Linked DNA regions of Homo sapiens. The protein of the gene in region 1 interacts with the protein of each later gene in a pairwise test. Each region holds a gene or a part of one and is shown on either strand. Other genes may lie near its edges.

Region 1 (5,801 bases):
AACTTAGATGGGGCCACCACCAATATCAAGCACCCGGTTTGGCAGTGTCTGCACTGAGCTGTCTCCTGTTGGTAGTGGTGATGTCACACTGCCAGGGTGTGGAAAGCCACCCTCCCTCCTCTCTCTTGCCTTCCACCTGCCCCTTTGGCTTTCCCTGAGAGCTGGCCTGACACCTGTTTCAGAGTCAAGAGCTTTTAAAGGGTTCTGGCCCAGGACAGGAGTTCTGGAATGGAATCTTTCCACTTTCTGTTAACTAAAATACTATTTTCCATCTGTATCCTAATTTCTCCCCATGGGCTTTGAATAAACCCTCAACACTCCAACCCATATCAAGCTTTCTCCTCTCTTCCCTGTCCCGTAACCTCTGGTTGGGTTCATGTACTGTTTCTTTGTGGCGTGAACAGCGTTTCCAATTAGAATCTGCCTGAAAGGAGGTCCCATTTGCCCACTGAGCATCCTGTGTTCTCATGGTGGCTCTAACTCCAGAAGATTTTAACACAGTCTCATCAAACACTGCTTTCAGGGAGGAATTTACACTGAGGTTAAAAGGACTGTTGAGGACTAATGCTAACAGAAGCTAACATTTATTGCGTAGGACAATACACTAAACACTTCACATGTATTATCCCATTTAATCCTCACAACAACTGCTACCCCCATTTTACAGATGAGGGAGTGGAGAGCTCAGTAACTTGCTCGAGGTCTCACAGTGGATCTTTCCAAAGCTGAAGCCTATGCTTGTTTTCAACAGCAATGATTTCAAACAAGAGTATATACATTTGTGTGTGTGTGCGTGGTAAGATATACAAAAAATTTGCCATTGTAACTATTTTGAAGTGTACAATTCAGTGCCATTAAGTACATTCACAATGCAGTGTAACCATTACTATCTAGTTCCAGAACTTTTTCACTGTCCCCAAAGGAAATCCTGTACCCATTAAGGAGTCACTCTTCATTCCCCTTCCTTCCAGTCTCTGGCAACCACTAATCTGTCTTCTGTTTCTATGGACTTGCCTGCGCTGGATATTTTATGTAAATAGCATCATACAATATGTGGCCTTTCGCACAATACGGCTGGCTTCTTTCACTTAGCATAATGTTTTCAAGTGTCAGCCTAGCGTATTATGTAATAGTACCTTATTTCTCTTTATGGCTGAATAGTATTCTGTTGTATGGATACTATACTTTTTGTTTATCCATTCATCAGTTGATAGACAGGTGTGTGTATGTTAAGAAACAGCTAGCCTTTATCTTCAAGAACTGAATCTCTAAGGTAGGATTTCAGGCCTGATGTCAAGCTGGGAGAAAAGAGAGTTGGAAGCAGGTGCTCCTTTTCAGGACTTCCAGGTAACAGCTTGGAAATTACTTATTCCTGGGCTCGCTCTGTGGGCATGGCAAGGCAGGAGGTATAGTAGCACCTGTTCCCCATGGATGTAAATGGCTTCCAAAGTACTTCTGCATAGTAGAGAGGTTAGTAGAGGAGGGCCTTTGATAGGCTCCTGGAATGTAAGCTCACACTTTCCATCCTACCCTCTTCTCCCGGCATTTCACAGGGTAGGGGGTAAGAAGAGGCACGGGGCAAACACTGGGGGCCTTGAGAAAATATTTGGGCTCCCTGACACAGGATGTTGGTATAAACATGATGGAGGAGAAATAGAGGTGGCCCCTTGGATAATTTAATCCCCCACTCAGCCCAGCCCCTTTCTGAAGTGGTTGTCCTGGATTCTCCATAACATGCATGCATACACACACACACACACACACACACACACAGAATTAATTATGCAACTTATTTGGCTTGCCCAAGCTTTTTTTGTAAGTTCTGTAGTGGTTCAGAAGGAAGATTTTAAAAGCAGCAAGACCTGTATTCAAATAATACCTCCACTGCCTACGAGTTCTACAAATGCAGGTATGTTTCACAACTTCAGGTTTTTTTTACCTGTAAGATGAGAAGCGTTGCAATAGTATCAAACTGGAATGGAGTTTGATACATAGTATGGCGCCTAGAAGAAGCAATCTCTCATGTTATTATTAAAGGTTGAGGTTATTACTAAAGATTTCCATTGTCAGCATGAACTGAGATTTTATGGAAGAGTGGGCTAAGAACCAAGACTGCGAATTCTAGGTTAAAAAAAAATTTAAACCGTGTACTCAAATGGTTCAAATTTATCCCATCATCTTGCGTTCCTGTAGACTCTGCCTAGTTGCTGAATCTTTTGAATTTGGGGTGAGGAAGGGGAAGCAACCACACATTTTCTCATTTGAAAAATTTTTATTTTGGCACCCACTTGAGTACCTGGCACGGTGGGGCTGTCCTCTATGGGGGCAATGGAGTATTAGTGAGGGCATTGTGGCCCTGGCCTGGGGGATGAGAACAAAGGGGTATGTGACAGCAACAGGTCACAAAGGGAAGCAGAAGATAAATATGGCTGCACAGGGGGTTTAGGCAGAGAGGGTCGTCACTTCCTGTCACTAGGACTACAGTTTGTAGTCTCTCTCAGGGAGAGAGACTACAAACTGTAATTAAAAAAATCAGAGGTGGAGGTCAGGGGGTTAGGTCCAGAAGAAAACCTCTCTGGAGCCCACCCTGCATCTCTACGTCTTGGAAGAGTCTGGAGTCCAGGCACCCTACAGCACCCCCCACAGCAATCATCCGTGCTCCCACCCCCACCCCGGCCTCTGGGAGGCTCTGAGGCAACAGTGGGGGCCTGTGGGGTGGGGTGGGATTGAGAGACCAGCTGCAGAGACATCTTTGTGACCCAGGAGCACCACTGGTCCCTCATCTGCCACCGAGGCCAAGGAAGACCCAGAGACCTGCCTCACCAGTGCTGCCGTTGTGCTGAAAGACAACCATGAATGCTGATTTTCTGCTGCCGTATTATACGGCCCAGAGTGGCTCCAGCATGAGCATGTTCAACACCACCATGGGGAAACTGCAGCGACAACTGTACAAGGGGGAGTACGATATATTCAAGTATGCACCGATATTTGAGAGCGACTTTATCCAGATCACCAAAAGGGGAGAAGTGATTGATGTGCACAACCGTGTCCGTATGGTGACCATGGGCATTGCACGTACCAGCCCCATCCTCCCACTCCCAGATGTCATGCTACTGGCACGACCGGCCACCGGCTGCGAAGAGTATGCTGGACATGGCCAGGCCACCAAGAGAAAAAAACGCAAGGCAGCAAAGAACTTAGAGCTCACCAGGCTTCTGCCCCTGAGGTTTGTACGGATCTCTGTTCAAGACCATGAGAAACAACAGCTGCGCCTGAAGTTCGCCACTGGCAGATCTTGCTATCTGCAATTGTGTCCCGCTCTTGACACACGGGATGACCTCTTTGCCTATTGGGAAAAACTAATTTACCTCTTGCGGCCACCCATGGAGAGTAACAGCAGTACCTGTGGCATTCCAGCTGAAGACATGATGTGGATGCCTGTGTTTCAGGAAGACAGGAGGAGCCTGGGAGCCGTGAACCTTCAAGGAAAGGGGGATCAGGACCAGGTCAGCATCCAAAGCCTCCACATGGTCTCTGAGGTGTGTGGGGCCACCTCTGCTGCTTATGCTGGAGGGGAGGGACTCCAAAATGACTTTAACAAACCCACTAATGTGCTCAATGCATCCATCCCCAAAACATCTACAGAACTTGCTGAGGAGCCAGCAACAGGGGGGATTAAAGAGGCAGCAGCAGCAGGGGCAGCTGCAGGGGCAGCAACAGGCACCGTAGCAGGTGCCTTGAGTGTGGCAGCAGCCAATTCTGCCCCTGGACAGGTGAGCGCAGCCATAGCTGGGGCGGCCACCATCGGTGCAGGAGGAAACAAAGGCAACATGGCCCTTGCAGGCACTGCCAGCATGGCTCCAAACAGCACGAAGGTGGCTGTGGCAGGGGCTGCAGGCAAGTCCTCAGAGCATGTTTCCAGCGCATCCATGAGCCTTTCCCGAGAGGGCAGTGTGAGCCTGGCCATTGCAGGAGTAGTACTGACCAGCAGGACAGCTGCAGAAGCAGACATGGATGCAGCAGCGGGACCTCCCGTCTCCACCCGGCAGAGCAAGAGCAGCCTGAGTGGACAGCATGGAAGGGAGCGAACCCAGGCCAGCGCTGAAGGCTGCAAGGAGGGGAGGGAAAGAAGGGAAAAGGACAGGGCTCTCGGAAGGAGTTCCCATCGCCGCAGGACAGGTGAAAGCCGCCACAAAACAAGGGGAGACAAGATTGCCCAAAAGTCCTCCAGCAGGTCCTCATTCAGCCACAGAGCCAATAGAGATGACAAAAAGGAGAAAGGCTGTGGCAACCCGGGGAGCAGCAGGCACAGGGACTCGCATAAAGGTGTCAGCCACACGCCCATCTCAAAGGAGTCCAGGACCTCTCACAAATCTGGGAGGAGCTTATGGACCACCAGTTCCGGTTCCAGCAAGGGACTTGGCAGGGTCAGCTCTTTCCTGAGGAACGTCAGAGCCAACCTTACTACAAAAGTAGTGGGCACACCACATGGCAGAGATGTGAACGTCATGGCTAAGATGGCGGAGAGGAGCACCAACGTGGCCATCGCCGAGACAGCAGAGGGTGGCCAGGGGCTGGAGACGGTTGGTTCTATGACACCGGACATCATGGAGACAGTGACCTTTGAAGCCCATTAAATAAGACCCAGAGCTGGAAGCTGCAAAGGAGCCCAGAGCTCATGGGAGTGTCCCTGGAAAGCCTATTCCAGCGTTCTTTACTGCCGTTTAAATAAAGAATCATACATCTGAAAGTGGCTTGCTGGCTGAATTTTTGTGTCCCACAGCCCAGCAGTGACCTCACAGTGGATTCTGTGATGTCAACTGTGCTGCAGCCTGAGACCCCAGGATCCAGTCAAGGGTAGCCCCACCTCACACCCATGCTCAGCAGAGCCCAGATGAGTGCTCCAGCTTTCCTCAACCCCTTCCTGGCTTTGGTTCGCCAGGACTATGGCTGAAAGTCAGGCTGGGAGCTTGAAGCTCTACCTCCACCATCTCCCCATCCTTTTTATAAACTTGCCCCCTCCCAACCCTGGAAAATCCAAAGACGAAGCAAGAACAGAACTCTCACCCCCTTGCACTATTCATAGGAGGGAGTAAGGGAGCAGCAGCATGTGTTGGCAACCAGAACAGGGAGGAGCATTGTCTAGACTTAGCAATTCCACCCCTAAGTATACTCCCAAGAAACACACATGTTGCAGGAGACAGCCATGAGAATGTTTGTAGCAAAATAATACTGGAAACTGCCTAAATTTCCATCAACAGAATTGAGAGGGGTATATGCAGTGACAAATAAATGGCAGCTACACACATTAGCGTATTAGCATAGATAAGTTTTGCTCTTTCAAAAACTTTAAAAAGCAAATTGCAGAATAAGATATAATTCTACCTACAGGACAATTCAAAAACAAGATCAAATACAAATAATATGTTACATATTGGATACATGTTTGGTAAAACAAAACCAAGGGAGTGGGAAAAAATTCAGGACAGTGGTTTTCTCTGGGGTGGAAAGGCAAGAGATTGGATCAAGGAGGTGAACACAGTCTTTCAGTGGTGTTGGGAATTGTTTTAGTTCTTAAGGGAGGCGGTAGGTACAAGGCTGTTTATTATTTTGTTGGGTTTTGCATTTCAACATTGTGTTTTGCATTTTAATACCTCTGGAATCAGAATGGTCCTACAACCACCGTGGCAGTTCTGATGAAGTTATTGCTCCAGACATATATTCACCAATTCCTTCTCCTCAATGCTTTCATTTTTATGCATGCACAAAAGTGATCTAAGTCTGAAAGGCCCATTTTGTTA
Region 2 (4,670 bases), on another chromosome or scaffold:
CACACTTTCATGGTTGACTTTAATTATGTTTGGGTTATGTGAAACATAACCATAGTTGAGTCAGAGCTATACAAAAAATGTATACTGAAAGCAGCAACATTCTCCTCTTGTCCCAACTATCCTATTCCCAGTCTTCTTACTTTCCATCCTGTACCCACCCAGTGTTTGTAACTAGTTTCTGGTGTATTCTGGAGATCTTCTTCCTCACCCTTCTTTATAGCTGTGTAGGACTCCACTGTGTGGATGGACACAGTTTAGTGAATCACTATAGTTTATTGAATCACTATAAGTGGAAATGACATATAAGTCATTTCCAATAATTTCTAATTACAACCAATGCTGCAGAAAGTAACCTTGTGCATATGGAGCTTTTGCTTTATTGGAGAATTATCATTTGGGCGGATTCCTACAAGTGGGATTTCTGGGCCAACAGCAAGTGTACATGTAATTTTATTAGGTATTGCCAAGTTCCCCTCCAGAAAGGTAGTTCCAGTTTGCACTTCTACCAACACCACACAAAGGTGCCTCACCAATACAATGTGGCGTTGTATTTTACATTTCTTCCAGTCTCATAGGTGAGAAATGGCATCTGAGCTTTAATTTGCATTTGTTTGAATTTTTAAAAATAAATTTTATTGTGTTTAAAAGTATACCTGTTATGGGATACACATAAATAGAAGGTTACTAGAGTGAAGCAAATTAATGTATCCATCACTCACATTTGAATTAAAAATGCATTTTAGGGACACTTTGTATGTTTTTTGTAAATTGCTCATTTTCCTCCATTTTTCTATCAGGAGTTTGGTGCTTTGTCCTTCAATGTTTAAGAATTGGCCTCATAATTTTGTAAAACTAATTAATACTAATATATAGACTGGCACTTAGTTTTTGGCCAGGCATGGTGGCTCACACCTGTAACCCCAGCACTTTGGGAGGCTGAGGTGGGCAGATGACCTAAGGTCAGGAGTCTGAGACCAGCCTGGCCAACATGGCAAAACCCCGTCTCTACTAAAAATACAAAGTAGCCGGGCGTGGTGGCAGGGACCTCTAATCCCAGCTACTTGGGAGGCTGAGGCATGAGAATCACTTGAACCTGGGGAGGTGGAGGTCACAGTGAGCCAAGACGGCGCCACTGCACTCCAGCCTGGGGGATTAGAGTGAGACCTGTCTCCCAAAATAAACAAAATAAATAAAATGAAGTTCTCTGTCGTGACTTCAACCAAAAAATAATAATACCTAGTACATCCGAATGCAGTATGAGATGATCTACTGTGGCGTTAGGCTTTATTTTAATGTAAACATAAAGCACACATCTAAACTCTGAGAAATACAGGTAGATATGCTGGTTTACCTATTTGTATAGTCAATTCCTGTTTATTATGAAACAGCGTTATCTCTTTGTGTATCTTTTAGCTCATATAGTCAAACCCCATGCTGCCAACCTCAGGACTAAATAAACTGAGATGGGGCTTTACTATCTATGACAGAATAAATGTTTAAGGTGTTGCAAAGCCAGACATGAATCAGTTTTTCTGAGTGATTGGAAACATTTTGGTACGATTTATATCCTAACTCTTTTTGACCATTAGCAGATAAATAGGGACTATTTTCCTGCTAACAGGCTATTTTAAAATATCATTAAAAACAAATTGTATGCAGTTGTATATCCTGTTTCAGTTGTATATCTAATTATATGCCACATTCTTTCAAAAAATTGGCTTTTCATTCAGTTGTCTTAAATTTGCAAGACGAATGGTAACAATGTCTTTATGAAGATCACAATTTTGAATGTTACATGTTGAGTGAGACATTGAAAGCTGTGTTTATTTTTTTCAGTGACTGATTTTCTATGTCCATAGATGCTATAAAAACTGATCGAAGATCAACTAAAAATTCAATTACAATATTACAAATTCAACTGCAGGTACCAATATTACATTATTTGACAGGGATAATAAAATGAGCAAAGACTGGAAATCACAGACAATAACATTGCTTTCTCAATTAACAGAAAGGATTCATAACATATTCCTTAACGGTAGATGTGATTTGTAGAGAATGTGGAAAAGAACTATTGAGAAGTCCACCTGCTGCCCCAGACTGAGGCACATTAGGGTGGTTGTGGGAGGAGTTATATTTGAGGGTTCCATTTTTCCTTAGGGTATTAAAATGCATGTCCTGGTTTGTTGTTTATTTGCCATTAAGTTCTCTTCTTCAAATAAAAGAATTAGGGGAGAAAGTATGGAAAAGAAACGCACTAAACTTCTGGAAAAATTAACAGAAGCTTAAAAATAACAATTTCCAAAGAATCATTCTCTTCTTGGTATAGAGCAGTACCTGTCCTAGTTGCCTTAACTTTTTGTACTCACTGGTAAAGACAGTGATTAGTAAGACCAGTGAATTTGATACAGCCACTTGAAAGAAAAAAAGGCTGTACTACAAATACCCATGAAAACAGATTTTCTCTCACCCTTCCCTCTGCCCTCAAGGAGACAGTTAAAACAAAACTATGACAGCATTTGGTGATTTCCCACAAGAGTACTGTCAAACCTTTGAGAGAGTACTGCTGAATCTTCAGGGAAGACCTGTAGAAAGTTGAAGGCCATGAGCGAAATGAAAGTAGTTAGTTTCAGAGTTAGAACTTCTTTATGCTTTCTTTCAGGCATAAGTGCTTTTGTGCTAGTTCAGGAGAAAACACTTGCTTACACTGCTTACACCATCAACAAAAATAATTTCAGTATGGTGAGATTTGTCGCATTTTAGCAAAATTTTTAAAAAGGGTTGAGTGTTAACCATTCTGACCCTTTTAAAAAACATGCTTAAACCCATGTAAAAGCTGTAAGTGGACTAAAAATACATTAAAAAAGAGGTGGTCATAATAAAAAAAAAGAACACTTTTATACATAGGATTTTATTTTGCACTGCTGTAACAATTTCATTATAGACCAAGGGAGAAAAAGAAAAAAAGGATAAAACCACCACACTGAGTAAATTACTAAAGCTTTTCTACTTTGTAACAGGATTTTCCATCTGATAGATTTATTGTCATATCCCCTTCAAAACAGACAAGATGCTCACCATATTTTAAAGATTATAGAGGTTGCCACTGAAAGAAAAATTTTACACAGTCACTGTACATCAAGGTTGAAAAACTGTCCTGCATGAAAAATATACTTAGAAATCATGTGAATAAAAGAAAAAAGAAAACATTATTGTGTTTAAGGAAAGATTAAAGTCCTCATAATGTGCCATCTAAATGTGGATACTCATTCTTCTTGGAGTCGCTAAGATGTAGAAATTTCTTGCTTCTGCCCTTTTCACTCATTATACTGTGTTTTTTCCCAACAGTATTCATTAAGGCAAACAAATCCCTTTCTGAAGAGGTCTTAAGGAAATTGTGGACAAAGCAAACTTTTGGCATTAAAACAGGTTAACATATACAAAGCCTTTGTAATATACATTAAGCATATTTTTCTTGGACTAGTGACAAGAAAAGATGAACATGCTTGTTAACAATGTCAAAAAGTTTAAAATTCAGTGTCCAAGCAATTCCTAACAATGCTTCTGTAGCTTTAAGCTCTAAACAGTATAGAATTTATGCAAATGCATTAAAGAATTCAAGCTTGGCAAATTACACCCAAGCAGGTTATTAAACTATATATACAGAAAGTAAATGATAAATACAGAATTAAAAGAGTCCTTCTGTTTCCTTATAGCCGTGAAAATTGACAAAGTTTCTGAGGACAGTTCTATAATATTAAACATTAGGTAACCACAGATGTTGGGAAACCTAACTACACAAACCGATTTAAAATACTCAAGATGACTTTGTAGTGTTTAATACAATTCAGTTCGTAGTTAAGGGCACAAGACAACATTTAACAAAAATAATCACATCAATTGACCTAGAAATCAAATGCAAATAGATATGAATACAATCTCCAAAATCTGTCTTTTAAGTGAACATTAACCATTTATTCAAAGTTATACAAGAATTTGACGGATTAAAGTCTTCTGTGACATAAAGCCATTTCAAATAGTTTCATGTCTCAGCTGAGCAGGAGGAGAGGGGGTGAAAGAATAAGTGAGTAGGCCCCGTTGGGCAGCTAGACAGTAAAAACAGACTCAACAGCAGCCGCCCCCAGCCTGCTGTCCTCCCTGATTGCCTGCATGTGTTGCATTGGTAGCAGCATGCTGAGGGCCAATTTTAATGCCATTTGCCTGAAATAAAAGAGAACAGAACAATAAATATGACCAGACAATATAGTTTAACTAATTCTTAAAAAACTCATTTAATTCTTTATGATACAATTTTATCAAACAACTGAGAAAAATACAGCAAGTAGATTTTAGCAACAATTAAAACAATATCTCCTAAGGGATGTTCCTTCCTTTTAAAAACACTGTGGAAATGTTTCTGAAAATAATTCTTTATCATACCAGGTACGGGGTAAACAGTTATTGGATAATGCTGCTTTTCAGGAAATTCTCATAATGCAGAAATCATTTAAAATAATTATTGCAAGTAATCTTTAAAGCATAAAAATACCCAAAGCCCATGCTGCTTTAATACAACGTAAAATCTTTTCTCTAGACAGTGTTTCTGTTCCATGTTGAATCAGCTGTACAGGCTAAGGGCATATGAGTGTTCTGTGTCATCAATAATTTCT

Evidence for each region. The genes of interacting proteins can lie anywhere in the genome.
Region 2: the proteins of GARIN4 (region 1) and RAB2A interact in binary tests that used the Homo sapiens proteins (3 or more experiments, as listed by UniProt).

What each region holds. Positions count from the first base shown.
Region 1 is NC_000001.11:212,622,026-212,627,826, forward strand, and holds GARIN4 (Golgi-associated RAB2 interactor protein 4), read left to right. Parts: upstream 1-2,448; 5' UTR 2,449-2,852; coding exon 2,853-4,637; 3' UTR 4,638-4,750; downstream 4,751-5,801. UniProt on the Homo sapiens protein: RAB2B effector protein required for the compacted Golgi morphology, probably through interaction with small GTPase RAB2B.
Region 2 is NC_000008.11:60,620,225-60,624,894, reverse strand, and holds the end of RAB2A (ras-related protein Rab-2A), read right to left. Parts: intron 4,222-4,670; coding exon 4,126-4,221; 3' UTR 1,251-4,125; downstream 1-1,250.